Linked DNA regions of Homo sapiens: all the other regions are linked to region 4. Evidence: fine-mapped expression QTL. A gene starts in region 4. Each other region holds a variant in brackets. All regions are shown on one strand. Distances are from middle to middle. Region 1 has its middle 45 kb from the start of RAB33B. Region 2 overlaps NAA15 (N-alpha-acetyltransferase 15, NatA auxiliary subunit). Region 3 has its middle 28 kb from the start of RAB33B. Region 4 holds the start of NDUFC1 (NADH:ubiquinone oxidoreductase subunit C1).

What was found. PIP is the estimated chance that this variant, and not a neighbour inherited with it, causes the effect. A credible set is the group of variants that fine-mapping cannot tell apart.
Region 1: its variant is the best candidate, but not a certain one, in a credible set for the expression of NDUFC1 in thyroid (GTEx, PIP 0.85).
Region 2: its variant is the best candidate, but not a certain one, in a credible set for the expression of NDUFC1 in spinal cord (GTEx, PIP 0.72).
Region 3: its variant is the best candidate, but not a certain one, in a credible set for the expression of NDUFC1 in fibroblasts (GTEx, PIP 0.75).

The regions. Positions count from the first base shown.
Region 1 is chr4:139,495,590-139,503,222 of GRCh38, forward strand. It overlaps a transcript of SETD7 not described here. Among named protein-coding and RNA genes, the nearest start is that of RAB33B, 45 kb to the left of the region's middle. RefSeq lists a silencer at 2,206-2,500. The variant T/G (reference allele first, on the strand shown) is at 3,150.
Region 2 is chr4:139,356,875-139,364,507 of GRCh38, forward strand. NAA15 (N-alpha-acetyltransferase 15, NatA auxiliary subunit) reads left to right here. Exons shown (of 20, transcript NM_057175.5): 11 at 512-681; 12 at 2,869-3,021; 13 at 3,626-3,754; 14 at 4,850-5,063. Among named protein-coding and RNA genes, the nearest start is that of NDUFC1, 58 kb to the left of the region's middle. The variant G/A (reference allele first, on the strand shown) is at 3,913.
Region 3 is chr4:139,477,882-139,485,514 of GRCh38, forward strand. No RefSeq gene overlaps it. Among named protein-coding and RNA genes, the nearest start is that of RAB33B, 28 kb to the left of the region's middle. The variant C/T (reference allele first, on the strand shown) is at 4,044.
Region 4 is chr4:139,299,245-139,306,877 of GRCh38, forward strand. NDUFC1 (NADH:ubiquinone oxidoreductase subunit C1) reads right to left here and starts at 3,233. Exons shown (of 6, transcript NM_001184989.2): 1 at 3,172-3,233. NAA15 (N-alpha-acetyltransferase 15, NatA auxiliary subunit) reads left to right here and starts at 2,261. Exons shown (of 20, transcript NM_057175.5): 1 at 2,261-2,587. The coding sequence starts at 2,534. RefSeq lists enhancers at 1,652-1,771, 2,252-2,311.

The DNA of each region.
Region 1 (7,633 bases), 200 kb after region 4:
ACTTTTAAACCATCAGGTCTCATGAGAACTCCCTCAATATCATGAGAACAGCATGGGGGAAAATGCTGCCATGATCCAGTTACCTCCCATCAGATCCCTCCCACCACATATGGGAATTACAATTCAAGATGAGATTTGGGTGGGGACACAGATCCAAACCATATCAGGGAGTTTTCAGTTATATAAACGTAATGTTTAATGATCTCTGATATATTCACTTTATAATAGGGATTAGTTGCCAGTGGGGCCAGAAAATTCAAGGAGCATGATTGCTTGGGCAGAGTTAGGTAATGTTTGCCTCTGTGACACTGTTTTTTTGGTACGTTTATACCTAATAACCTGGGTTTAAACTTTTTTTGTAATTTTTTATTGTGGAGATTTCAAAAACATATAAAAACACACATATAAGATCATGAACTCGTACTCATCACCCAGCTGAAATCCTTATCCACATGTGGTCAGTCTGGTTTTATCTACACCCACACTTCACTTCCCTTATCTCCCATATTAGCCTGAAGAAAATTCCAAATATCCTGATTGTTTTAAAAGATATTTTATCTAATCAAGTCCTGCTGGTTTGAGGGTCTTTTTCCCCCCTCTGGTGACTTTATTTATTGATTTCTCTGGCACAACTTATTAGGTATCTCTTTTCAGATCTTAAAATGGCTCCCAGAGTGCGATTTTGAGTTCTTGAGGGAAGCCTATGTTCTGACAATTGCCATTATCAGTAGGCAGAGTTCATTCCATTCGCTTTTATCTTTTCTTAATTACTCACGAACATCATTATGAGCATCAGTCCTTGGGCTGCACTATAAAGAGGAATGCCAGCTTTTCTGTGTTCTACCCAGGGCGCTTGATCCAGATGTGGGATCTTTGGGAGTGGAGCCCCAAATCTGCTTCTTTTACACGTTCCCAGGTGATTCTTCTGGCCACTGAAATTGGAGAAGCAACTGGCTGAGAACGTTTTCAGAGATTATTAAGGTACATAGATCTCAAGCCACGGTGCTGAAAAGCCAGAAAGGAGACTTTTAGAAACCCAGCTGCATTTTTCTAAATCTTCTCCATCCTCTCTTTTGCTGGCTCTGACTTTTCACTGGGTCAGAGGCTCTAAGGCTGGAACCTGATGTTCCACGGGGACTGTGTTATGGTTGTTCTTCTACAGAGTAAAGTGCATGAACTGAAATAGCTATTGACTGCTCAGAAGTCACTCAGTCTCAGGTTTCTGGCTGTGTTCCACATAGCTGTAGGTTTTGTAAATCGTACTTAGATAAGTTGTGTTCCTGTACACACACACACACACATGCACACACACAGAGTCCGAGTGCTATAATAATTCTGATAAAGAAATTTCAGAGGCCAAGCACAGTGGCTTATGCCTATAATGCCCAGCCAGTACTAATGATCTTATAACTCGTGTTTTACAGATAACTGTGCTCCAGGCAGAGAGAGATTTTAAAGACCTGTATGACACAGAAATGCTTCTGTTTGTTTTAAAAGATAAACCAGTTTTGTTCAACTTTGTTTACTGTAGGCGCCAGAAGTGCTATTAGCCCTCTTGAAATTTGGGCTCATTTAAAAATAAAGTCCGGGTGCGGTGGCTCACGCCTGTAATCCCAGCACTTTGGGAGGCCGAGGTGGGCGAATCACCCAAGGTTGGGAGTTCCAGACCAGCCTGACTAACATGGTGAAACCCTGTCTCTACTAAAAATACAAAAATTAGATGGGCATGGTGGCAGGCACCTGTAATCCCAGCTACTCGGGAGGCTGAGGTAGGAGAATCGCTTAAACACGGGAGGCGGAGGTTGCAGTGAGCCGAGATTGCGCCATTACTAAACTCCAGCCTGGGCAACAAGAGCGAAACTCCGTCTCAAAAAAAATAAAATAAAAAATAAAAAAATTTAAAAAGCCCTGGAAGTGGTGTCTTAATTTAGCTAATCAAAGTTCAACCTGATGATAGGAAAGAACATCAACTGAGTTTTCATGTTTTTTTTGTTTTTTTGTTTTTTTGTTTTTTTTTTAGACGAAATCTCTCTCTTGTTCCCCAGGCTGGAGTGCAGTTGCGCAATCTCGGCTCACTGCAACCTCCGCCTCCTGGGTTCAAGCGATTCTCCTGCCTCAGCCTCCTGAGTAGCTGGGATTACAGGCGGCGCCTGCCACTACGCCCGGCTAATTTTTGTATTTTTAGTAGAGATGGGTTTTCACCATGTTGGCCAGGCTGGTCTTGAACTCCTGAGCTCAGGTGATCCACCCGCCTCGGCCTCCCAAAGTGCTGGGATTTTTAAAATGTGTTAAATCATCCTTTCCCTAGAGGTGTTTGTTTTACAGCATGTCAGAAACAGTATGAGAATAAATCCTCACCACAAGAGGGAGCTGGACCATGAAGAAATTAATGGGTTGTTTTGGAAATAGAAATAAAAACTGGGAAAGTGCAGGAGATTTACGGTAAGACCATCAGTATCATCAGTGGTGACCGTTATTTGCACTAAGTGATTACTTCATTCTTTCAGTTGCTCAGATCAAAAACTGCGGAGTTCATCCCTGATTCCTTACTTCCTATTATATTAAAGCATGTCTTTTAATGCTGACTCTTTGACATCTAGGGCCTTGTGGGCTCTGGAGGGACTGCCCCCCACCCAGGGCTAGCTGATTCCTAGAGATAGCAAAGGCCTGGCACCTTTCACATGCAACCTAACCAAATCAGCCTCTGTGCCTACAACCACTTCCTTCTTAGGCCTCTTCCACTCCAAGCCACCATTACCCCAGGGTCAGGTACCAGACAACTAAAGACAGCCGGTACACCCCAGAATCTACTGAAGTTATTCAAGCTAGCCAATCCCAGGCCTGCTGACTGCCTCTCCATTTCTTCCTGCAGACACCACAATACAGGTTCTTGTCTACGTTTTCTCTTTACTCCATCTACCTCCTACTTGATCCTGGTGCTTCCCCATGTGGCCCCTGTAACATGGTGTGCCCCCTCCTCTTGGGAACTGTGAATAACAAACTATTGTTGGGGTTCAGAAGACAATATCCAGAAATGAAGGCCTCAGAGGCAGCTTCAGGAGCAAAGATTTTTCTCTGACTTTCTCCTGCCCTTCTGTCTCTGAGTCCCATCCTTCCCAGAGGCTGCCTATAGACCCCAAGGCAGATCC[T/G]GCCAACCAGAACTATTTTTCCCCAAAGCCAGCCATAAAACCTAAAAATATCACTCTAACTTTCCCTCTGCCTTTCTGTGTAAAAACTGACCATAAAGAAATTATCTCATGCCTGTAATCCCAGCACTTTGGGAGGCCAAGGTGGGCGGATCTCTTGAGGCCAGGAGTTGGAGACCAGCCTGGCCAACATGGTGAAATCCTGTCTCTTTTACAAATACAAAAATTAGGCATGATAATTGTTTGAACCCAGGAGGCAGGGGTTGCAGTGAGCCGAGATTGCACCACTGCCCTCCCACCTGAGCAACAAAGCAAGAGTCTGTCTCAAAAAGAAAAAAATTTTCTGACCTACCTTGTTTGACTATAGTCAGAAGACCCCCATTCCAGAAAGGGCACTAAAGCTGCCTTTGCAAAATTATAGTCAGAGAAATCTGACATAACTGACTATCTTGCTTCTACCAGGTTAACTTGCTTGTCCTCATTCTTGTGTGGAGGCCATAATAGTCCTTTCCTTGAACTGGTCCCTTCCTTGTTCAAAAATGGAAATCGAATTTGTAAAGACTAACAAGAGGACGCAAGGTTAGAATTATGGTAGAGGCTTGAACTTTGCTAAAGCATAGGCTGAGTTAAACAATGACCTGCCATTGCCAAGCTTGTTTTTCTGTAAGTTGCTTACTGCCCCAGAGTCGCAAGATTTATAACTTCCCCAACTACTCCTGTAGATAACATTACTACTGTGAAACCTGAAGAATCGGTCTTTGAGATATTTTTCAGATTTAGCATTTCAGCAGACCCAGAGATGCCACCTGGTCCCAAGACCCCCCCTCCCAGGAACTGATTCAGCTGCATGAAGACAGTTTAGACACCCCTGTGATTTTATCCACAGCCAATCAATCCTTTCAGTTTCCCAGCCCCCTTCCCACCAAAGTACCCTTAAAAACCCCAGCCTCTAAATTCTTGGGAAGGCAGATTTGAGAAATTTCTCCTGTCTTCCTGCTTGGCTGGCCCTGTGATCATTAAATTCTTTCTTCGCTGCAACATCTGCTGTTCTCAGTGCACTGTTTTTTTGTTTTCAGGGCAGTGGGCAAGAAGAACCCACTGGGTTCTGACAACCCTGCCCCATACCCAGAAGAAAGGAATGCATGCTCAGAGAGGCCAGGAAGAATCTAGACAGAGAGGTTTTGCTAGGTTTTCCCACTCAGCCTGTTAGCATTAGATCATGCCGTTTTTGTCCAAACATATTTCATACTTCATTGAACCTAAGTATAAAAATGGCCAATTTCCCCTATACCTTTGGATCATCATTCTAAAGGCTCTTGTGTATACACATTAAATAAATGTATGTGCTTTTTCTCCAATTAATCTGCCTTTTGATTTTGAGTTGATTTTTCAGCAAATTTTTGAGAGCGGCATTTGTCTCCTGATCTGTTGGCCTCACCATTCCTGAATAATCAGTGAAATGCCTAATGCCATATCTCAGCACATTCTACTGTTTCTTCCTATGATGCACGCCAGTTCAACCACTTCTCCTCACCATGGCCCCTCTGTCCTGCCCACCATCATCATGAACCCCCTGCTTCCACCTGGGTCCCTACTCCCACTCCAGCCTATTCTCAGTACAACAGCCTGAGTGATCCTTTTACACGTGGGAGGAAGATCTTGTCATTCTTCTGTTGAGATCCTTCCAATGAAAGGGCTAACAGCAATTACAATTTCAAAAGCATTTTCAGAAACTGTAGTAAACTAAGTTTAAGAAAGCTGGTGGTTTTTGTTTGTTTGTTTTGTTTTTTTGAGACGGAGTCTTGCTCTGTCGTCCAGGCTGGAGTGCCGTGGTGCCACCTTGGCTCACTGCAACCTCCGCCTCCCAGTTTCAAGCGATTCTCCTGCCTCAGCCTCCTGAGTAGATGGGATTACAGGCATGCACCACCACGCCCAGCTAATTTTTGTATTATCAGTAGAGACGGGGTTTTGCCATGTTGGCAAGGCTGGTCTCAAACTCCTGACCTCAGATGATCTGCCCACCTCAGCCTCCCAAAGTGCTGGGATTACAGGCATAAGCCACCGTGACTGGCTGCACCACTGCACCTCGCACTCTGAGTTTAAAACAAAGTCCTTGAAATAGTTTTCGGGGCCCCTGTAGAATTTGATTCTCTTCTCTCCCCACTGGCCGGTCCCCTGGCCTCCTGCGCTTCCCTGAGCATTCCCACCTCAGGTCGTGGCTCTCTGCGGCCCCCCTCAGCCTGAAATGTTTCCCCTGGAATCTCCATAATTTGTTCTCTCTCTCAGGAAATGAGGTCTTCCCTGACTTTCCCCCACAAAAAAATAGCACCCCTCTTGGCCCTGCACACCTCCTCACCCTCTTTATTCTCCTCTCTTTGTCCCATACCACTTACCCAGGCACATACAGTCATTTACTTGCTTCTTATCCGTTTCCCTCACTAAAATGCAAGCTCCACAAAGGCAAGGATTTTGTTTTTATTCACTGCTGATTTGCTAATGGCCCAGAAGAGGGACTGCTATGTGGTAAAGCTTAAGAAATTCGTGCTGAACTTGGATGAAGCTGGAGGCCATTATTCTAAGTGAAGTAACCAAGGAATGAAAAACCAAAACCCGTTATGTTTTCACTTATAAGTGGGAGCTAAGCTATGAGTACACAGAGGCATTCAGAGTGACATAATGGACTTCAGAGACTCAGAAGGGGGAGGGTGGGAGGGAGCTAGGGATAAAAATCTACATATTAGGTACAATGTACATTACTCAGGTGACAGGTGCACTAAAATTTCAGAATTCACCACTGGATAATTACTCCATGTAACAAAAAACCACTTGTACCCCAAAAGCTATTGAAATATATTTTTTAAAAAGGTACTCAAAAAAAAACCCCAAATAAATAAATAAATAAATAAAAGTACTCTAGTTCAGTCACTCCCACATCACATGCCTAGAAAGTGCTTTGTGCACATCCAGGAAGATATGCCTAGTGATCCCCGCAAAGCCTGTCATCTAAGGGAGAGGCCAGCTAGATGCTTCACTCATTAAACAATCGAGAACACACAATAATGGTCTGGCAGTGTCCATCCACATGTGGCAGGGCAGCGGAGACACGGCAGGTCCCGAAGAGTCAGGCCAGGCTTCCTGGGGCAGGGGCTCTTCACGGGGGACTGCTTGGAAGGAGGCAAGCTGTGGCTATGCCTGGAAAGGTGGCATCCCAGAGCAGGCGGAGCAAAGTTAGTGAGCTCAATCCATGGGTCAAAACTCAATCTTTTTTTCCCCCAGTTGTCATCACAGTTTAATTTTACAAATAGAAAAAACTGAGGCACAAAGAAGTTATGTCACACAGCTAGAAATTGCAAGGCTGGGATTTCAACCCAAGATGATTACCCAATTCTCCTAATCATTACAATCTCTCATTCATGCACTCACTCTACGAGTATTTATTGAGTGCTTACAGTGTATCAAATGTTAAGGATATGTTAGTGAATAAAACAAACTAAAATCCCTGTCTATTCTAGAGGGAGGAGAAAGACAATAAACAATCAACATAATATAACTAAGTTCTACGGTATGCTAGAAGGTAATGAGAAGCATGGTGAAAAATAAAGGAGGGTAAAGTGGCCTCGGAATGCTGGGGGAGGAGAATGTTGCAGTTTAAGTGGGGTGGTCAATGAAGTCCTCATGCAGCAAAGACTTGAAGGGCACGAGGGCAGAGCCTGTGGCTCTCTGGGAGAAAGACATGCCCAAGAGCGGGGCAAGCCTGGCTCTCCTGGACTGCAAGGGGGTGGGTGTGGGTGGAGCACAGGAAGGAAGAGGGAGAGAGGACATGAAAACAGTCTTCTGAACCCCACAGCAAATCCTTATTTGCCAGAGAGTAGTCGAAAGCCCAGCGTCACACAGACAGTGGCAAAGCCGGGTGAAACCAGTCTGACTCCAGATCTCAAGTCCTTTCCACCACACAACCCTCCCTCTGCCACAGCAGAGAGGCAGGAAAAGAGAAGCAGAGGCGGGAAGAGGGAAACCCCATCACGGAGGATGCTTCACGTGGTGGAGGCAAAGAATGAGAAATGAGATGGGATGGAGAAGCTATGCTGGAAATCCAGGCAGAGGAGGTGGAAGTTCGGGATCAGGATAGAAATTGGCTGAGAATAAAATTATAAGAAGCTGGTCTTGCTGGGGGTGGTGGCTCACGCCTGTAATCCTAACATTTTGAGAGACTGAGGTGGGCGGATTGCCTGAGCTCAGGAGTTCGAGACCAGACTGGGCGGTGAAACCCTGTCTCTACCAAAATACAAAAAATTAGCGGGGCATGGCAGCATGCTCCTGTAGTCCCAGCTACTTGGGAGCCTGAGGCAGGAGAATTGCTTGAACCTGGGAGGTGGAGGTTGCAGTGAGCTGAGATTGCGCCACTGCACTCCAGTATGGGCGACAGAGTGAGACTCTGTCTCAGAAAAAAAAAAAAAAAAAAAAAGAAGCTGGTCTGTGTGTTGCAT
Region 2 (7,633 bases), 58 kb after region 4:
GCATATTAAAATATATTAAGAATATAATCACCAAATTCAAAATAACCACATTACAAGTATATTTTATAACAGTTTGGTGCATTAGCTAGAAACTCAATTAAGCAGCCAGGGCTTTTTTTTTTTTTAACCTCACATGAATAGAGAACATTTTTAATTTCTTCCCCCTTTATAAATAACATCCTGATCAGTATGCTCTCATAGTTCTAGTACAGCTTGTCTCCCCCCTACCTGTTTCAGTTTTCTTTCTAGGTAGTTAGACCTTATTTATCTCCCATGTTTGTTTCATAAAGTTATTATATGAAAGGGATTGTGCTAGGGGTTATAAGGATGCAGAAAAGAAAATATGGACCTTTCCAAAGATCTTATAAACTTAGGAGGAGTTTTATAGCTAGATACATAAATAAACTCCTTTCATAGTACCTCCCTTGTTAATAAACATAGGGACCATTTTGGGGGGTGCTCTTAATATATGTAATGCCTCATCTTGGTTTCTTCTCCCTCTTCTCCTAAGATGATGGAAAGGAGGAACCACCAACCACATTACTTTGGGTCCAGTACTACTTGGCACAACATTATGACAAAATTGGTCAGCCATCTATTGCTTTGGAGTACATAAATACTGCTATTGAAAGTACACCTACATTAATAGAACTCTTTCTCGTGAAAGCTAAAATCTATAAGGTAAAAATCTTTTTTTCTATTTTCTTATAAGGTAATGAGACTTGTCATGAACTTTTTCTCTGTATTTTATAGATTCTAAATATAGGAAAAGTGACATTTGATAACTCAAAAAACATGAAGTAACAAGTATAGTACATTTCTCAGTCCAATTACTTTGAGACTTGTGGTCATGCTAATTTGGTGATTTATCTATATCCGTATACACACACATACGTACATACATTAATGTATATGTATTCACACGTATCTGGTAATTCTCTTGGGTTTGGAGAGTAAGAGTATATAGGTAATCCAAAAGAAATTTTATTTGCTGTGAAATGTGTATTTCTATTAAAATTTGAGTATGATAACATATCAGTATCTGGCAATGTTATTGAGATGAAACTGTGAAGATTCTATTATGAATTCTACAGGTTATCTCTTTTGACTTCTCAACTCCTGGGCCTTGCTTGAGAATTTTTAGTCATATATTTTAGTATCATCTTAAAATAAAGTTGGCTTTTCTCTGTCATATTGCAAATAAAATTTAGTAATGAAAGCTCTTGAGGGACTGATAATAAACCAGTAATTTGTTTAGCAAGAAAATAATGAAATTAAGTAATATTTAAGAAGTTTTTTTGTTTGTTTTTGTTTTTGTTTTTTTTTTTTTGAGAGAGAGAAAGAGTCTCACTGCATCACCCAGGCTGGGGTGCAGTGGCGCGATCTCAGCTCCCTGCAATGTCTGCCTTCCGGGTTGAAGCAATTCTCATGCCTCAGCCTCCGGAGTGGTAGCTGGGATTATAGGCATGCACCACCATACCCAGCTAATTTTTGTATTATTTGTAGAGATGGAGTTTCGCCATGTTGGCTAGGCTGGTCTCGAACTCCTGGCCTAAAGTGATCCACCTGTTTTGGCCTCCCAAAGTGCTCAGATTGTAGGCATGAGCCCCTGCACCTGGCTAAAGAAGCACTTTTGATTTTTTATTTATTTTTTTTATTAATTTTTTTATTTTTAGATTTTTTAAAAAAATTATACTTTAAGTTCTAGGGTACATGTGCACAACGTGCAGGTTTGTTACATAGGTATACATGTGCCAGGAAGCACTTTTTAAAACTAGATTATGGCTCATTAGTTTTGAAGCTTTGCCAGATGGACTAGTTAGGTAACTTAGAATGAGGAACATTGGGGAATGTCTACTAATGGTCCTAATCAGTAATGTTTCCATGGTTCCTTTAGCGTACAGATTTGGCTATGCCTTTTATGACTTTCACATTTAATTATGTTTTGACTTCTAGTATTGGCCGGGAGCTGTGGCTCATGCCTGTAATCCCAGCACTTTTGGAGGCCAAAGTGGGCAGATCACAAGGTCAGGAGTTCAAGACCAGCTTGGCCAATATGGTGAAACCCCATCTCTACTAAAAATACAAAAATTAGCCAAGTGTGGTGGCAGGCCCAGCTACTCGGGAGGCTGAGGCAGGAGAATTGCTTGAACCCGGGAGGCGGAGGTTGCAGTGAGCCAAGATTGTGCCACTGTACTCTAGTCTGGGTGACAGAGTGAGACTCCCATCTCAAAAAAAAAAAAGATTTCTGTTATTATTTATTTATTTTTTATTGACATGGAGTCTTACTGTCACCCAGGCTAGAGTGCAGTGGCATGATCTCAGCTCACTGCAACCTGCACCTCCTGGGTTAAAGTGATTCTCCTGCCTCAGCCTTCCAAGTAGCTGGGATTACAGGCATGCGCCACCACCCTTGGTTTACTTTGTATTTTTAGTAGAGATGGGGTTTCACCATGTTGGCCAAGTTTGACTCGAATTCCTGATCTCAGTGATCCACCCGGCTCGGCCTCCCAAAGTGCTGGGATTACAGGCATGAGCTACAGCGCCCGGCCTTATTTATTCTTTAACAATTATTTTTGAGTATTTTTACTATGTGCCAGGCAGTTTTGGGCAATGGCGATATTAACAGTAGACAAAACTATTAAAATAAATCTTTACTGTCAGACAGCTTACATTCTAGAAGGCTGGAAAAAGGAATCAGAACTTATATTATGGAAGAATGCATTTCTTTATATTGATTAGCATCTAAGAGTCACAAGAATGCCTTTACTTTCATTTGTTTTTAAATTATTTATCAACAGATAATGAATTACCTGCACAGTAAACTTAGCATGCTAACTGGTTTATTTTGCTTTTGTACCTTATAAGCATGCTGGAAATATTAAAGAAGCTGCAAGGTGGATGGATGAGGCCCAGGCCTTGGACACAGCAGACAGATTTATCAACTCCAAATGTGCAAAATACATGCTAAAAGCCAACCTGATTAAAGAAGCTGAAGAAATGTGCTCAAAGTTTACAAGGGTTTGTACAGCTAGTGTTCTTAATTATGAATAAAGAAGACATGAGCCAGTTCATACTTGTATAACATGCTTATTTTTCAAAGTTTGTCTTTAATATTTTTGACACCGTAATAGCCAAGATTTTAATTAAATCACTGTATCAGAAGATACTGGAGTCAACATTGATATAAAGGATTTTCCATTTAGAGGGTTGTACAATGGACTTTTAAACTGGTTTATATTCATGTACGTTCAGATAAATTTTTTAGGGGTCAAGGGAACTAAAATTTATTGAATACCTGCTATGTGGTGGTGTTCTTTTTCTTGTATTAATCCCTACCCTCAATTATGTAGACCTTTGAAACTACATTTGTGTTTCAAAGTTTCACAGTGTTGAACACACAGTGTGTGTTCAAAAGTTTCACAGTTTCACCTGTGAAACTACAAATTATTTTTAGTAGTTAGAGAATATCAGTTGTTTTCCCATGTTAACTATTCTTTAAGAATGTTTTAAAAATTTTTTTGAAAGAGTCCCAATCAGCTTAACATCTTTGTTTTTTAAAATTCTGTGGTAGAATGATGTCTATGATAAAAAGTGATCTTGAAAATATTTGATTTCTGTATAGGAAGGAACATCAGCGGTAGAGAATTTGAATGAAATGCAGTGCATGTGGTTCCAAACAGAATGTGCCCAGGCTTATAAAGCAATGAATAAATTTGGTGAAGCACTTAAGAAATGTCATGAGATTGAGAGAGTAAGTACCTTCTACATAAAAGTTTTCTTGTTTTATTCTGTCGATGGTTTTGGACAAATTTCATAGTTTTTTTCTCTTCTATTTCTTTATAATTCATAGTAGGTGCTTTTTAAAATCAGTATTCACTTTTTTCAGTTTTCATACTGGAAATATAGACT[G/A]CATTTTCAGCCAGGGTCTCTATTGTCTTGTGGTAAGAACTCTTTTTTAAAAAACTTTATGGAAAATTTGTATCTTGGCTATGTTTTTATTGATTTTTGAACCTTCCAAATTGCTGCTGCCGCTTTAGTAGTACATACACAGCTGATTAAAGTACTCCTAGGACCCTGTTCATTGTAGAATTTATTGATGATGCCATATACCCTTGGTAAGATATAAATGTTGGAAGACTTTTCACAATATTTCTTCTGTAGCTTATCTAATTTCATGCTGTTTGATAAAATTGTTTTCTTAATTCTCTTCACGTCTGACTCATTTCCATGACTAGTGGTTGGTTTTTCTTTTTTGTGTTTTACACAGATAAACATAGTTTATATAACTAATTTCACATTTGCAATATTGTCAAGTATAGAATACCAAAGCTTAGTTGAAATGCATCAAGTTCCTGATTGCTTGACTTACTTGCTAATTGATTTCTTTTCCACATACCAGCATCACATTGCATAGGATTCAGATTTGTATCCTCAAAAAAAAATTATCAAATACATCTTATAATCCTTTGCAAATGATTCTAAATATAAAAACTCAATGTTTAACATGTGAGTCTACTTGCACTACTATGTAAATAAATTATGTTTGATGTTGTCACAATAGCTTTAAGTATAATTAAGGAAGGGATAATGAATAAACATTTTTAAAGCTTCCTTTTTCAACAAATGATTCTGTGCCTGCAGTATGCCATATCCTGTGCTAGACAATGGCTAACTGTATTTGCTTATTTGAAATGCAAAATATTCCTGTTGAATAATTGTAATTGTTTTTTTAAAATTTTACTAGTTTTTTTCATGCCAAAGTAACAAGTATTCCAATGCTTTGATTTTATAGTTTTCTTAGCCATTGCTGTACTTCGGTATAATAATAAAAAGATAATTTTGTTAGCATTTTATAGAAATCACTGATGACCAGTTTGACTTTCATACATACTGTATGAGGAAGATTACCCTTAGATCATATGTGGACTTATTAAAACTAGAAGATGTACTTCGACAGCATCCATTTTACTTCAAGGCAGCAAGAATTGCTATAGAGATCTATTTGAAGCTTCATGACAACCCCCTTACAGATGAGAATAAAGAACACGAAGCTGATACAGGTATAATATTCAGAGTTCTTCTTGTGCTCTGATGTGTTTATGTGTATTTATGTGTATTATGTTTTTCATTTAATAGTATTGCTCCATGTCTTGAGCACCACGAGGAAAGATATTATACAAGGTTCTCTAAACAACAAAAGAAAAATGTTTACTTTTATGCTTCCAAAGTTAAACAAGAATTTAATTTGCAGTTATTCATTGGCATTTAAGAAGTTTGCATGTTATGAGTTTTACATTTAATATCTGGTTTACCCAAAATTATAAATTGCTAACTATTTTACAGGTACTAGATTGCTAATTGTATAATTAGTATTATAATTCTACATTAGTGTTGGCTATTAGTATTACTAGTTATTTTTTTGAGATGGAGTCTCGCTCTGTTTCCCATGCTGGAGTGCAGTGCATGATCTCGGATCACTGCAACCTCCCAGGTTCAAGCGATTCTCCTGCCGCAGCCTTCTGAGTAGCTGGGATTACAGGTGCCCACCACCACGCCTGGCTAATTTTGTGTTTTTAGTGGAGACGGGGTTTCACCATGTTGTCCAGGCTGGTCTCGAACCCCTGACCTCAAGTGATCTGCCCACCTCGGCCTCCCAGAGTGCTGGGATTGGCCTCCTAAAGTGCTGGGATTACAGGCATGAGCCACTATTCCCAGCCTATTCCTCTTTTTAATAGTAATTTATAATTAACCTACTAAAAATGAATATTGCTTGAACATTAAAAACCAGCTTGGGATAAAGCTAGGAAAATTGCACAGTGACTTATCATTTGACTCATTTTTAATGTACCGTTTTTATAGTAGGGTATCGGAATGACTAGGGAGAAGTCTTTCTTAGACAGTTATTTGGGACAGAACCTGAGAATGAGTGATCTCATACGTACAAAAATATGAATTTTGTGCCTTACTCATGGCAAAAATGTTGTAGGAATTGGGGCATAAAAAGTGTGTTTAATTTTTTTTTCTTTTAAGCCTATTTCTTTTTTGAGGATATGATTGGCTACTTTCTATATCCTTCTTCCTGCTAAACAGCTTTTGAATTATTTTGCTAATTTGTCGTTAAGTTTTACTTCCTGTTGCCTAAGGACAGTTTAGAAATTTCTAAGGTCACATACTGAAGCCTTTGTACAGATATCACTTGAATCTCTTTCTACCTGTTGGTGTTGCTTCAACTTAGAAGAAAACACCAGTAAGAAGAATCTGCTGGACAATTTACTGTTAAAGTTGAGAGCTATGACCCTCTGGCTTCTTTTGTTTTTCTTTCTATTCTTCTGCCTCCCTCCTTCTCTTCTTCAAATTATACAAATAATACACAATTAACTTTTCAAAGCTGAGACTATTAATACAGAAGTATACTTAGCAAATATGAAGATCCCCTTTCACTTTTCTCCCACCCATTCTTCATTCCAGCAATTATCCCTGTGAAAGGATCAATTCCCTTTATGCACAACTAGTTTCCAGAGTTCTATGTGTACATATACACATGCATTTCAGGATGGTTCTTTGCAGGGTTTCTTGTTTGATTTGTTTTTCTTTAGTCCATAATTGGGTTTATATCATACTCAGTGTTCTGCAACTTAGACTTTTTACCCCATTTAATAGTATTGCTCCATGTCTGCATATCATAATTATTATTTTCACTGTTAACATTTTAGTGACTGTAGGAATCTATGTGAATTTTTTCACCATTATAGTACTATAGTAAATGTCCTTGTACATAATTATGTGCATATTTATTTAGCATGGATTATTAGAAGTGGAAATCGGTGGGTTGAAGGATATGAGAATTTGGGATAAAAGGTTCATCAGTTTTTATTACCACCAACATGGGTATTGAGATTTTCTTTTATTTTACATTATTGCCAGCTCTGAAGGTTATTGTTCTTTTACATTTTTGTATGTTGGGCAAAATATCTAGTTTACAATTAATATATTTTATTTGTTTGTTTGTTTTGTTTTGTTTGAGACAGGATCTCATACTTTTGCCCAGTCTGGAGTCCACTAGTGCGATCATAGCTCACTGCAGCCTTGAGCTCCTGGGCTCAGGCAGTCCTCTCAACTCAGCCTCCTGAGTAGTTGGGACTACAGGTGCGTGCCACTGCACCCAGCTAATTTATTTTTGTAGAGACATGGTCTTGCCATGTTGCCCAGGCTTGTCTTGAGCCCCTTGGCTCAAGTGATTCTCCTGCCTTGGTCTCCCAAATTGTTGGGATTACAGGCATAAGCCACAATGTTTGACCAATTTCTAGATTTTTAATGGAGTGGATTATATGTTTTCTTTTTTTCACTTAGGTTTTATCCTTTAAGATGAGTATCTTTCATTATATACAAGTTTTAATTTTTAATATTTAGTCTTTTTTTGTGGCTTCTAGGTCTTGCTTAGAAAGGCTTTTTCTACTTAAAAATTTAAAATATATTTATGAATATCTTCTGTGTTTTTCTTCTAATACTTCTGCTTTGCAATTTTTTAGATTTGGCTCTTTAAACATTTGGAGTTAATTTTTATATACGTTGTAAGGTGGAGGGTGGCTTTCCACCTCCCTTCCTCCCCAAAATAGACTGCTATTTCCTC
Region 3 (7,633 bases), 180 kb after region 4:
GTGATTTATTTACATATATGTTTTTCAGAGTGTTTTGAGTCAGATGAAACTTGTCATTTAAAATTTTTAAGTTGTATATCCTAATGCTTTTTGGTATTTTTCTTGTTCTGAGTAGTTTAATTATAGAAGATTCTGTATATTTTTGAGTCCCAGAACATTCTTTAAATTACAAAAACAATTCAACTTTTGTTTTGGTTATTCATTCCATAAACTTAACAGAGTATATGGAGCCATTTTATTACTTCTCAGCTCCTCATTATTAATCTTTTCTTGCTGCAAATGGAGAGTTCCATGTTTCAATAAAATGTGATCAGTAATGGGACTTCTTTTTTTAAGTTAAATTTTTGTATAGGAAATACATTCACATGGTTCAATACTTGAACCATTCACAAAAGAGTAAATGGTGAATTCTCCTTCCCACTCTTTCTCCCAGCTCCTCAGTTCTTATCACAAGGAACCAGTACCATGAATTTTTTTTGTTTCTGTTTTTGTTTTGAGACAGGGTCTCAATCTGCAACCTAGGCTGGAGTGCAGTGGTGTGATCTCAGCTCACTGCAACCTCCACCTCCTGTGCTAAAGCAATCTTCCTACCTCAGCCTACCAAGTAGCTGGGACTACAGGTGCACGCCACAACACCCAGCTAATTTTTTGTACTTTTTGTAGAGCCACGGTTTTGCCATCTTACCCAGGCTGTTCTGGAACTCCTGGGCTCAAGTGATCCATTCACCTTGGCCTCCCACCCCAGTTCCCACGCTGGGATTACAGGTGCGAGCCACCACACCTGGCCCCTGAATTTGCTGTTTCTTCACATAACAGTATACCCTGGAGATGAATTCATGTTAAAATATGTAAGCTTCATCATTCTCTTTTAGGTCTCATGGAATTCCTTTAGTTGGCCATTATTTAGATAGCCCTCTACTGATGAACATTTAGGTTGTTTCCAGTCTTGCTATTACAAGCATTACCAAAATGGATATCATTTTACATAAGTAATTTCTCAAATGTGTGAGTATATACAAAGGGAAAATTCCTAGAAGTGACATTGCTAGATGAAAGGTATCTGTGTTTGCAATTTGGGTTTCTAATCGCCCTCCTCAGAGGTTGCACTAGTAATAAAAAGCATGCCTGATTCCTCACACACTCACAACACAGTCTATTATCAAAGGTTTTGACATTTGGAAGGAACATTAATAGGTGAAAAATGATATCTCACTGTGGTTTTAACTGGCATTTATCTTATGAGTAGGGTTGAGCATCTTTTTATATTTAATGTTTACATTTTGTTTTCTGTTGAATTGTCTGTTCACATTCTGTCAGGTTTTGTTTTTTTGCCTTTTGTAGGGATACTGAATATTTTGGGTAAGTTAGTGATGTTTTATTTTTTTTTCCTAGTTTGTTTTTTGCCAAATGGCATTGCTTCTAATGGTTTTTGGCATGAAAATAATTTTAATGTAGTGAAACTTAGCAGTCTTTTCCATGACTCTCATTTTGTGTCATAATTAGAAAGACTAACCTTGCCTGAGATAAGAATTCTCGGCCAGATGCAGTGGCTCACGCCTGTAATACCAGCACTTTGGGAGGCCCAGGCGGGCAGATCACTTGAGGTTGGGAGTTTGAGACCAGCCTGGCCAACATGGTGAAACCCCGTCTCTGCTAAAAATGCAAAAATTAGCCGGGCATGGTGGCAGGCGCCTGTAATCCCAGCTACTTGGGTGGCTGAGGCAGCAAAATCACTTGAACCCGGGAGGCAGAGGTTGCAGTGAGCTGACATTGTTCCACTGCACTCCAGCCTGTGGGACATAGTGAGACCCTGTCAATCTCTCTCTCTCTCTCTTTCTCTCTCTCTCTCACACACACACACACACAAGTGAATGTTAGCTATGTACTGGATAATTATGATGTCTCAATGTAGGTTTATCAAATGTAATAAATGTACATAGTGAGGGAGGCCGTGTGTATGTGTGGATGGGCAGGGGCTCTGTGGGAACTTGATGGTTTCTGTTCCATTTTTCTGTGACCCTAAATCTGCTCTAAATATAAACATTATTTTTTTATTATACTTTAAGTTCTAGGGTACACGTGCACAATGTGCAGGTTTGTTACATATGTATACATGTGCCATGTTGGTGGGCTGCACCCATTAACTCGTCATTTACATTAGGTATATCTCCTAATGCTATCCCTCCCCCCTCTCCCCACCCCATGACAGGCCCCGGTGTGTGGTGTTCCCCACCCTGTGTCCAAGTGTTCTCACTGTTCAATTCCCACCTATGAGTGAGAACATGCAGTGTTCTGTCCTTGCGATAGTTTGCTCAGAATGATTATAAACCCTATTTTTTTAAATAGATGTGTCAGAGACTGCAGGTTGCCTACCCAATTTTTGTCTTCCCTCTTGTATTAATTTCCTAGGCTGCAGGAAAAAAGTACCATAAATTGGGTGGCATAAAAAACAGGAATGTATTGTCTCACAGTTCTGGAGGCTGGTAGTATCAGTAGTGTTGATTTCTTGTGAGGCCTGTGAGAGAGAATATGTTCCATTTCTCTCCTGGCTCACTGCAGCCTCGACCTCCTGGGCTCAAGCAATCCGCCAAGCTCTGCCCCCTGAGTAGCTGGGAACACAGGTGCATGTCACCATGCCCAGCTAATTTTTAATTTTTTTTTTTTTTTGAGATGGAGTCTCACTCTGTTGCCCAGGCTGGAGTGCAGTGGCGCCATCTCAGCTCACTGCAAGCTCCGCCTCCCAGGTTCACGCCATTCTCCTGCCTCAGCCTCCCGAGTAGCTGGGACTACAGGTGCCTGCCACCATGCCCGGCTAATTTTTTTGTATTTTTTTAGTAGAGACGGGGTTTCACCGTGTTAGCCAGGATGGTCTCGATCTCCTGAACTTGTGATCTGCCCGCCTTGGCCTCCCAAAGTGCTGGGGTTACAGGCGTGAGCCACTGCGCCTGGCCAATTTTTAAATTTTTTTTGGTAGAGATGAGGTCTCCCTAGGTTGCACAGGCTCATCCCAAACTCCTGGGCTCAAGTGATCCTCCAGCCTCGGCCTCCCAAAGTGCTGTGATTACAGGTGTGAGCCACCATGCCTGGCCAGATTTTTTCCTCTTTTTTGTGTGTGTGTGATGGAGTCTCGCTCTGTTGCCCAGGCTGCAGTGCAGTGGCATGATCTCGGCTCACTTCAACCTCTGCCTCCCGGGTTCAAGTAATTCTCCTGCTTCAGCCTCCTGAGTAGCTGGGAATAAAGGTGTGCACCACCACGCCTGGCTAATTTTTGTATTTTTAGTAGACACAGGTTTTCACCATGTTGGCCATGCTGTTCTCAAACTCCTGACCTCAGGTGATCCACCGGCCTCAGCCTCCCAAGGTGCTGGGATTATAGACATGAACCACACCACCCAGCCCAGATTTCCTCTTCTCATAGGGATGCCAGTCATACTGGATTAGGGCCCATCCTGATGACCTCACTTTAACTTGATTACCTCTGTTAAGGGCCCTGTCGCCAAACAAAGTCACATTCTGAGGTACCAGGGATTAGAACTCCAATATCTTTTTTCGGGGGGCAGGGGCACAATTCAGCTCGTAACACATCTCCCTCTTTTCTTACTAACAGAACCCTGGTTTCTTTTGCTGGCCACATAGCCCACTAGATAATCAGTTCCCAGCCTCCTTTGTAGCTAGGTATGGCCACATATCACAGTTCTGGCCAAAGAGATATGAGCAGGTGCTTGCCAGGGATTTCCAGGGAAACTTTGCTTTCCTGTAAAGAGGCCTGCCCTTTCCTCTGGTTGCTTCCTCCTCCTCTGTCCATGGCTGGCACGTGGGAGGGAGGCTATAGCACTGGCATGGATGCCTTGGCATTACAAAATGCTCTGGAGAACAGTGTCCTGCAGCTACCACACCAGCTCAGGCTACTTACCTCATGATTTTGCTGAGAAAAACAATCCCCACTGTTCAGGGGATTTGAGTACCTGTAGATGAATGCAATTCTAACTGGAAGAACACTTGAGGTGAAATGTGGAAGAGACTTGGGGACATTGGGACTAAAA[C/T]TTTTGGATGACGATTGCACTATCCCTGTTTAGGGACTGCCCGTGTGGTCAGGGAGCAATTTGGGGCCCACTCACTGCCCTAGCGCATCAGTCCTTCAAGGAGAGGAACTTGCTGGGAGAACCTGAGTTAGTGCCTTTCTACCAGCCTTTAAACCTGCGCCAGGGGAAAACACCGTTTTAGGGACTTAGTGAACAATGGGTGCGCCATGCAGATGTCATTCCTAGGCAACACCCTAGGAGTGGCAGAGCAACCAAAGAGAAGGAACCGGGGTCCCAGATGCTGTGCTGCTACCATCACAGCCCCAGACAGTTATGCTTGGACCAGTAAGTGAGAGTCAAGTAGAAGACTTACATCTTGTTCGAGCCAATGTTATTTGGGCTTAACTAATACCTCATCTAAGTTATCCTAGAAAAGTACATCTAGCTTTAAATTGTTAAAATTTGTCAGTCTGTGATAAAATTGATGGTACACAATTTTACTACTGTATGAAAATATATGTGTAAAGTCTATTATGGAACTGGTATACGTTAGGGATCTCACCTAGCTCATTTAAGAAGAAAGGGACTGGCAGGGCGCGGTGGCTCACGCCTGTAATCCCAGCACTTTGGGAGGCTGAGGCAGGCAGATCACGAGGTCAGGAGTTCGAAACCAGCCTGGCCAATATGGTGAAACTCCATCTCTACTAAAAATACAAAAATTAGCTGGGCTAATTAGTGGTGGTGCATGCCTGTAGTCCTAGCTACTCAGGAGGCTGAGGCAGAAGAATCACTTGAACCTGGGAGGTGGAGGTTGCAGTGAGCCGAGACCCCACCACTGTACTCCAGCCTGGGTGACAGAGCGAGACTCTGTCTCAAAAAAAAAAAAAAGAAGAAGAAGAAAGGAACTTAGAGAATTTGGGGTAGCTTATGTTATCTTTAGGAGGACCTGGGACCAAAATTTGGATGCTACAAAGACAGGGACAATAGTAGCCAAGATAAATGCCCAGATGTTGTAGACAGTTGACTGTCACCACTATCTCTCCTCAGCACCTATGACACTCAGGACTGGCCACAAAATGTCCCCAAAGCTGTCCCAGAAGTACTGAAATCTTCAACATCACACTGGAAAGAAAGGCCATTCTCCCTGTGACCCTGTCTCTACCCACTTCCTAGAACTGAAGCTGCAAATATATCTTGGGAATCACAGGTTTTATCATCCCAGGCTCTGCAGCAGGAAAGCACACTAGAAGAGGATGGGGAGGCGTCGAGTAAGCCAGTCAGCATCTGCTGCAGAAAGTGATACTACGCCTCTGAAGCTCTTCACTGGGAAACACAGCATACTGCTATTTTCATGCATTTCTGAAGTACTTCTAAAGTGTGAACTAAAAAATCCTTGCTAATTTGGTGATTTGTTATATTTTCATAAACTCCTTATGCAAATGTAAGATTAGTAAATGTTGCCTACTTCTGAGAGTGTATTCTTCCATTGTACATCCAAAGGTGCTATGGAGCATACATTTTTTAATTCTGAAAACATTGGGAACTTAATCACGTAGGATAAGGTGTATGACCAGCTAGACAGGGAGGCACTCCCTGAGCCTTTTTCTTCCATCCTCTTCTGGCTGAACACCCTTTCCTTTACGATCTCACCTTCAGAGTTACTTGATTCCTGAACCCATGTTTAGAGCCTCACCTTTACCTCTGAAATCCTGAATTGGCTGCTGCATGTGGGCCATCTTTCTTTTGCAGTATCTGTGGACCACTCAAACATGTAATTTAAAATGTATAAACAGTGGGGCATGGTGGCTCACACCTGTAATCCCAGCACTTTGGGAGGCTGAGGTGGGAGGATCACTTGAGCGCAGGAGTTTGAGACCAGCCCAGGCAATAAAGAGAGACACCATCTCTACAAAAAATTTAAAAATTAGCTGACTGTGGTGGTCTGTACCTGTGGTCCCAGCTACTCAGGAGGCTGAGGTGGGAGGATCGCTTGAGCCCAGGAGATTGAGTCTTCAGTGAGCCGTGATCATACCACTGTACTCCAGCCTGGGCAACAGTGAGACTCAGTCTCAAAAAATAAAAATAAAAAATAAAATAAAATGTATAAACTCAATCTTCCTCCTTAAATTTATTTTTCTTCCTGTGTTTCCTCAAAACCTCCAGCTTCTGTTGAGGCTTCCCTTCCCCCAACTCCCACATCTAGTCTCCTACCTGGATCTATCACTTCCACTGCCTTTGACCCTTGCTTCTGTCCTCTCTTGCTGAGAGGCAGAGGACGCCGCGCTTAAACTGTGGAGTGAGACCACAAAGAAGCTGAATCCCAGATGTTCTTTTTTTTTGAAACGGAGTTTTACCCAGGCTGGAGTGCAGTGGTGCTATCTTGGGTCACTGCAACCTCCACCTCCTGGGTTCAAGTGATTCTCCTGCCTCAGCCTCCTGAGTAGCTGGGATTACAGGCGTGTGCCACCACATCCAGCTAATTTTTTGTATTTTTAGTAGAGACGGGGTTTCATCATGTTGGCCAGGCTGGTCTCAAACTCCTGACCTTAGGTGATCCGCCCTCCTTGGCCTCCCAAAGTGCAGGGATTACAGGCATGAGCTACCGTGCCTGGCCCAGATGTTCTTTTTTAAACAAATTATTTTATGTTTTATTTTTTAAGAGAGAGTCTTGCTCTGTTGCCCAGGCTTGAGTGCAGTCGCATGATCTCAGCTCGCTGCAACCTCTGCCTCCCGGGTTCAAGCAATTCTGCCTCAGCCTCCCAAGTAGCTGGGATTACAGGAGTGTACTATCACACCCAGCTGATTTTTGTATTTTTAGTAGAGATGGGTTTTTGCCATGTTGGCCAGGTTGGTCTCAAACTACTGATTTGATGTAATCCGCCTGTCTCAGCCTCCCAAAGTGCTGGGATTACAGGCATGAGTCACTGTGCCCAGCCTGAATCCTAGATGTTCTAAAAGTCAAACCTCTCCATGCTTCAATTTCCTCATTTTTAAAAAGGGCTGACACTAACCCACGGGGTTATTGTGAGAATGAAATAATATATGTGTAGTATCTAGTGTTGTGTAACAAGCTTCCCCAAAACTGAGTAGATAAGACCACAATTATTGGTTGTCTCGCCGCTGTGGCAAGGCAGGAGTGTGCAGGCAGTGCAGGCTACAGGTCTCTCCTGAGGTTGCCGTCATCTGAAGTCCAGGTGAAGAATATGCAGCAGCTGGGGCAGAGCAGCCGGCACTCCTCGGGCATCTCTCGCTCTCTCTTTCTCTGTGCTGCTCCGTATGGCAGCCTCAAGGTAGCAGGACTTCTTACATGGTGGCTGCAAGCACCCAGAGTAAGTGGCGCAAGATAAACCTGCAAAAGCCCTGGGGCGTTTTCTAACTTAGCTCGAAGGTCACTCTGTATCCATGTAGAACAGCAATCGCAAAATCTTGCTTGGTTTTAAGGGGAGGAGATGTAAATTCTGTGAATGAGAAGCCCGTCAGAAAACCTGTGGACCTTTCTACAAACTATCAGAGGTGACTATGAAGATGTTTTGTACTATTTGGATGGTCCACTGTTTATCTCATGACGGAGTAATTAAAAGACTTACTAAACTGAAAAAATGTGCTACACG
Region 4 (7,633 bases):
GGTGTGAGCCACCAAGCCCAGCCTTTTTTTTTTTTTTAAATAAGATCCAAGTACTTAATAAGATGTAACAGTCTCAATAGAGAACATCTTACATATATGGAGAAATTTCACTCAACATATCCCTTTTGTAGAATTAAAGTTTGCAAGGTAAATGATTTTATTTCTTTCTTTTTGGTTAATATTTTTTAGAGTTAGCATTTGGAACATAGTGACATGCAAGCACATGGGGTAAGATGAATTAACTATCATCAGCAGCAGCAGCGGCAGCATATAGCCTTGGATATGTTAACTTTCTGAAAGCATGGCTGTTACTTACAGTATAACTCAAATGGGATCTCTATTTGTGAAATTGTGGTGATCAGAGTAAATATATATTTTTTTATTCAATTCAGGCTACTGTGTGGTCAGACTGTTATCTGTAGGTGCATTTTAACTAGCAAATGAATCAGTTAAATGTTGAATCAGACTAGTATTTGCCGAGCCTTTAAAATTGCCATTTCTTTGTCATCACCCAAAAAGAATGTAACATTTGCCAAACTCTATTTCTGGCTCATCTAATCAGGTACTCAGGTTCTGGTGGAAGCTACTGATTGTTTCAAAGACCAGAAATTTTCTTCCTCTGAAGGAAAATAGAATATTCTTTACAGGAGAAATTTAGAGAACTATAGCAAATAGTATTGCTGTAGGGATTTTTGGATATGAAGCCAGAAATTTGGATATGAAGCCAGAGATTTGGAAATCCAAGCTAAAACTATCAACTGCATTTAGACTATTTTTTCTGTCTTTCAATAGTTCAGACAGTTGAAAGATCTCTTGGGGCAGTGAATTTTGCAGGTTATTACTAAGTAACAGCTTAAAAATGAATTATAAGCTTGTTCTTAGTTTTATAAAGTTAAGGTTAAAATACTGGCCATATTTCAAACTGAAACATAGTTTCCTGTATATATGATTTTTCTCAAACTTTTGAAGAGAGATCACAGAATTTAAGGAAACTCCAGGATTTGACTGTTAAAAACCTTATTTATGACCCCGGTGAAGGGCGAGGACAATCAATATAGCAGCTACAAAACCCAAGTTTATATTGGGAAACATGTATCTCAACTCACACCTTTCAGGGACAGTTAAGAGAAGTTTGAAAATTAAAATATCTTTGCAAATAAATTTAAAACAGTAAAAAACACGCACATATTGTTTAATAATTCATGATGCAAAGAATGCTACAGAGTGAAATCAGGATTTGGAAAGAGGTAATCAAAAACCAAAGGTTAAAAGTGGCTCATATAACTTGAAAATTTTTAGATCAATGGAATGCCACTTTGAAAAAGTTTTACGGTCAGCTGTTAATGAAATGACTTACATTTTTGGAAGGACTCCTATTCGGTATGTAGTCTGACCTCGCCTACTCGAGTAGTTCCCTCTAGTATCCTTGCCAGTCTTTGGCTTCTAAGATCTGAGAATTTCTGGGGATGGGGAGTTCGAGTCACAATATTAAGAACTAGTTTGAAGCCAGCTCCAGGGTAGTCTGTCTTTAAGTCTCCACTACTCCGCTCCAAGGTGACTCATAAGGTCGGTCCGTCAACTCTGCATTATATGGCCTCAACAACGAAATTAAAACACATACTTTAACCTCCAGAGCCTCCTTTGGCAGTGCAAATATGTCACTTCGGATCTGACTAACTACCTTTCCAGGCTGATCTTAAGCAACATTCACCAAATTACCGATACGACAGCCAGGCCCATTTCATCGGTCAAGCTCTTTCACGATTTCCAGACTCTGTTAAGCCCCTTTCTCCCCAGGGCTGTTAACAAGTCTCCACTGCGGTGAAGCTTTTTTCATTTTCCACTCCGCCTCTGCTCCTTAAATTAGGCATTTCGTCCATAATCAACTACAGCGCTTCTCAAACACCTACACCTGTATTTTAGCACTTTGGGCTCAAACGATGATCACACAGTGTGCGAGACTCTTTCCAAGGAATGAAAGGTCGATCTAGCAGGAAGGCGCCAGAGAGGCTGTTTTTGATGAGGAGGCGGTCTGAACCGTACTTGCCTAGCCTCCCGTAGCTCCGCGGGCGCTTCGAGGGTACCACGCACTGAAATGATGGGCGGGGCCTGCCCCGACCCTCCCGGCCTCCACAGGCAGGCCAGCCTCCAGGTTTCCCGGCAAGCTCCGAAACCCAGAGGAGGTGGGGAAAGGAGGTCACCGCGCCTGCGTGTTAGGAAGCGTGACCCGGGTGGGAAAACCCTCCGCGTCCGCCATTTTGGCTGCCTCTGTCGGTCTGTTCAGTTACCACGTGAACCGCCGACGGAGACCCGTAGTGGGGGAGGCGGCGGCAGCGTTAAGTGAGAAAGGAAAAAAGACAACGAGGAAAAAGGAGGTGTCCGGGTAGGGCAACGCGGCGACACCCGAGGCCTGGTGGTGGCGGCGGATCGAGATATTCAAGGCTGAAGCAGCTACGGAACGGCAGCGGCGGCGGTCGGACAAACTGACTGACCGAGCCGGGTGGTGGCGGGAGCAGCGGGAGCAGCCGGAACGATGCCGGCCGTGAGCCTCCCGCCCAAGGAGAATGCGCTCTTCAAGCGGATCTTGGTAAGTGTGAGGCTCCGGGCAAGCGGTGGGGAGGATTTAGCCGGTAACCGGGCCTGTCACCCCTAACCTCGGCCCGGCGGGCACTGAGCCACTCCCGCCCGGGACCCCGCCTTCATAGCTCTCGTCAGGCCGAATGCATTGCTTTGCTCCCTCTCTGTGGTTCCTACTATGGCCCGCGCGCCAGGGACCACAGGCTTCTTCATTCCATCCCCACGCTTGAGGCCCTGGTTCCGGACTAGGCCCCGACCTCCCGGCTTCTAGACTGCCGGTTCTCATTCTCCCCGATCTGGGGGAGAAGAGGCCCGGCCTTTGGCGGGCAAGTGGGCGACACCGGCAGGAGTCGCGGCCCGGTTGGTGTGGGAACCCTGCTGGCAGGTCGGGGTGGCACCCTTGGAAGGAACAGGTGGTGCGGATGCAGCAGGCTCATTCATTGCCTAAACGCGGTTCTCCCTCCATCATCTGTCCCTCCCTCTTCCTCCTCTCTTGGGATTCACCTGTCTCCGCCCGGCCCGGGGTCACCCAATGACCTGAGAGGAGGGAAAGAAGGAGTTCAGAGAAGGAAAGAAAGCTTTTCAAACGACTACCTCCTTGTAGTCAGTTGCATACTGGAGTCTTCAGCTCCTCTGCCTCCGTTGTTCTCGTTTCTGGAGTAGGGATGAGGCATTTATTTCTTAGTTTCCGAGCGGGAAACAGCCCCACCCCGTCACTCTTCTCGGGAGGTGGGGCCCATTGCGAGGGGGCGGTTCGGTAGGAAGTAAAAAGTTGAGTCTTTAGTTGAAACGTTGCAGACCTAGACTTTTCTTATACACTGAAGTATATTAACACATGCAAAAACTTACCAGAGAAATGAGAATATAAGAACTTTTGAGATGGATTTTGTTGACGCTAGCTCAGACTTATTCCCTACGGTTCAAATGTGTGCAGTTTGTATTTTTTTAAACCATAAATGCATTGATGTTTGCAGGGACTGTTTACATTGTAAAATATGTCCTGTAGCCTTGGAGCTATAATTAACACATTGTAGCACATTTTTTGTTTGGCATTTAGTATGTGGGTTCCCCCTTTCACGCAAACGTTTCCTTATGATAGAATTAACTGTATTTGCCAAATTTAAGACTTTTAAAATTTGGGATGTGTGTGTGAAAGTGTTAGCCTTTTCCCCCGCAGTTATAATTTATTTCACCTGTTTGAAAAGTAGAACAACTCTGGGGATTCAGTTTTTCTAGAAATGAATAATCATCCATTTGAACTAACTTTGATTTTACAAAAGTGTCCATATGCCCTACAGATTTAGTGAATTCATTTTGAAAAACATTAGAAAGTCACATGCAGTGTCGCAAAACTGTTACCTTGAAATTCTTACTGGAATTTTGTTTTGTTTTAAGACTAAGAGTGTAGGTGGAGCTGTAAAATAGTTTTAGGAAAAAAGTTACTTTTAAACCCTTAAAAAGACTAATTGGTGTGCAGGTAGAACTGTAACATAAGTTTAGAATAGCAATTTATCTTTAATCTCTTTTTCACAATTCTTTATTTTGAAAAAAATGAAACTGAAAAGTTGAGAGAACAAGGAACACTCATAAACCTTTACTTATATTTATTTGCCATATATGCTTTCTCTCTCCCTATGTATATGTATATATACATTTGTATAAAAGTAAGTTGTAGATGTAAAATTTATCTCTAGGCTGGGCACGGTGTCTCATGCCTGTAATCCCAGCACTTTGGGAGGCTGAGGCAGATGGATCACTTGAGGTCAGGAGTTCGAGACCAGGCTGGCCAACGTAGTGAAATCCTGTCTCTACTGAAAATACAAAAATTAGTCAGGCATGGTGGTGTTCGCCTGTAGTCCCAGCTACTAGGGTGGCTGAGGCACAAGAATCGCTTGAACCCGGGAGGTGGAGGTTGCAGTTCCAGCCTTGGCAACAGAGGAAGACTGTCTCAAAACAAAAACAAAAAACTTCATCTCTAAATACTTAAGCAAGCATCTCCTAAGAATAAGGACATCGTCTTGTATACTTATAACAATCATTCTCTAATATTGTCTAATATCTGGTTCATATGGAGATTTTCTCAAGTGTTAGCACTTTTTTTTGTTTGTTTGTTTGAGACGGAGTCTCGCTCTGTCGCCCAGGCTGGAATGCAGTGGCGCGATCTCGGCTCACTGCAAGCTCCGCCTCCTGGGTTGACGCCATTCTCCTGCCTTAGCCTCCCAAGTAGCTGGGACTACAGGTGCCCGCCACCACGCCTGGCTAATTTTTTGTATTTTTTAGTAGAGACGGGGTTTCACCATGTTAGCCAGGATGGTCTCAATCTCCTGACCTAGTGATCCGCCCGCCTCGGCCTTCCGAAGTGCTGCTATTACAGGCGTCAGCCACCGCACCCGGCCAAGTGTTAGCACTTTTTAAATAAATCAAACTTTTAATTTTGAGAAGACTGTAATAATCACGTAGTTTAAGGAATAATACAGTGCACTTTACTCAGTTTTCCCAACACTAATACCTTGCAAAACCATGGTTCATTATTATAACATTGATACAATCCACCAGTCTTATTCAGATTTCCCCACTTTACTTGTACACGCGTGTGAGTGCTCGCGCACGCGGGTGCAGTCATCCCTTGGTATCTGTCGGGGGTTGATTTCAGGATCCCGCGAGATTCCAAAATTTGCAGGTGTTTGAGTCCCTTATGTAAAGTGGTGTAGTATTTGCATATAACCTATGCGAATGTATACTTTAAATATCTCTAGATTACTTATAATACCTAATGCAATATTACTGTTATATAGTTATACTGTATTTTAAAAATTTGTATTTTTTATTGTATTTTTAAAAATAGTTTTTACCTATGGATGCAGACACCAAGGATAATGAGAGCTGACTGTATTTACTTCTATGCAGCGTTATCCCATGTATAGATTGCACCACTACAATTAGGCTACAGAACAAGTTCCTTCAGTCCAAAGTACCCCCCTCTGTTGCCCTTTTAGAACCACATCCATTATCTCTCCCACCGCCCTCCCATCCCCTCTCGCTGCAGGCTCCAGCAACCGGTACATGTCCTCTATTTGTATAATTTTGCCATTCTTTTGGGTTTAGAGATAGAGTCTTCCTCTGTTGCCCAGGCTGGAGTGTAGTGGCTATTTATAGGCTCTATCAAAAGGGCACTGTAACCTCAAACTACTGGACTCAAGCAGTCCTCCCGCTTCAGCCTCCGGAGTAGGGGGGATCACTACAGGGCTACTACATCCAGCTAATAGTTTATTCCTTTTTATTGCCAAGTAGTATTCCATGATATGGATGTACCACAGTGTGTTTAACCATCCATATAATAGCAATTTTTGATTAAACATCTTAATTTTTTTGTGGTAGTGTTAGTGGGGCAAAAACCTGTAAGTTTATTGCCAAAATCACAGTGCTGAAGATCTATTGATAAGTTATATGTGAGAGAAATGTGGAAGTCACTAAATGAAGGAAGAGTAAAGGAGCTAAAATGTCCTTATTGTTCTCATACATTAGGAATGAAGAAAGTGTTACTGACCAAAAGGATAGTATTGATTTTTTGAAATTGCTTCTGTTTCTTGAGATTTGATAGTAAGTTAGTGCTTTTAAGATTTTTTTTTTTTTTGCCCGGTCTGATAAAGGAAATGTTGGACATAATGTGATGTGTGTGCTCTATGTAATCAAGTGTTGCTAGGTTGGTAACTTGTTGTTTTTTTTTTTTTTTGAGACGGAGTTTCGCTTTTGTTGCCCAGGCTGGAGGGCAATGGCATGATCTCGGCTCACCGAAACCTCTGTCTCCCGGGTTCAAGCAGTTCTGCTTCAGCGTCCTGAGTAGCTGGGATTACAGGCGTGTGCCACCACACCTAGCTAATTTTGTATTGTTAGTAGAGATGGGGTTTCTCCATGTTGTTCAGGCTCGTCTCAAACTCCCAGCCTCAAGTGATCCACCCGCCTTGGCCTCCCAGAATGCTGGGATTACAGGCCTGAGCCACTGCTCCTGGCTGCTTGGTAACTTGTTAAATCATTCCTGCAGCATTCAACTTTTGAGCTGCTACTTTGTTAGTTGTACTGTACTTGTTATGATAAACTTAAGTAGGAAATACAGTTAGTTTGTATTTCAAAATAAACATTTTTTTCCTTAAATTTTTAATGGAAACCTGCTTTACACATAAGTTTGCAAAAATTTTAGAGTTTCTGCAGTGGATTTGCCTGGCTTGATCTAGTCTAGTTGATCTCTAAAATTCAGTTTTGTTGTATATTTTTCTCTTTTTTCCAATATTACTCTTCTGTTTTCTGACTAAAGCATTGTCCTAAGTTAGTCAAAATGCTTGCATAATGTTTCTTGCTGATAATTTGTCTAGAAAAAGGATGGGATGAATTTAATGTGACATATACTATGTAAGAGTTTATTTTATTTTGTTTGTTTTTTGAGACAGTTTTGCTCTGTCACCCAGGCTGGAGTGCAGTGGTGTGATCTTGGCTCACTGCAACCTCCACCTCCTGGGTTCATGCCTCAGCCTCCCAAGTAGCTGGGATTACAGGCGCCTGCCACCACACTCGGCTAATTTTTTTTTTTGTATTTTTAGTAGAGATGGTGTTTCACCATGTTGGCCAGGCTGGTCTTGAACTAGTGACCTCAAGTGTTCTGCCTGCCTCGGCCTCCCAAAGTGCTGGGATTACAGGCATGAGCCACTGCACCTGGTCCTATGTAAGAGTTTAAGGAAGACTTGTGTTTGCCAGAAGCTGGTTTTTTTTTTTTTGGTCTGGTTTTTTTTTTGTTTTGTTTTGTTTTGTTTTGTTTGTAATTACAAACTTTTAACTTATTTGGAAAATTAAGTCATTAGAAAATTGTGGCCTTTGCCTACTGTTGATGCTATTTGTTTATCTAAAAGTTTGAGGAGGTTACCAGATATTTATACCACTTTGTTAGGATCTAGGTTAAGGGTAGGAAAAATGAGGTTGCCAGAGTAGAACAAAATCCACACCTTAGATTTTAACCTGCTTGGAAAAGATGGACATATCCTAATGCCTTTCAATCAAGTATTGG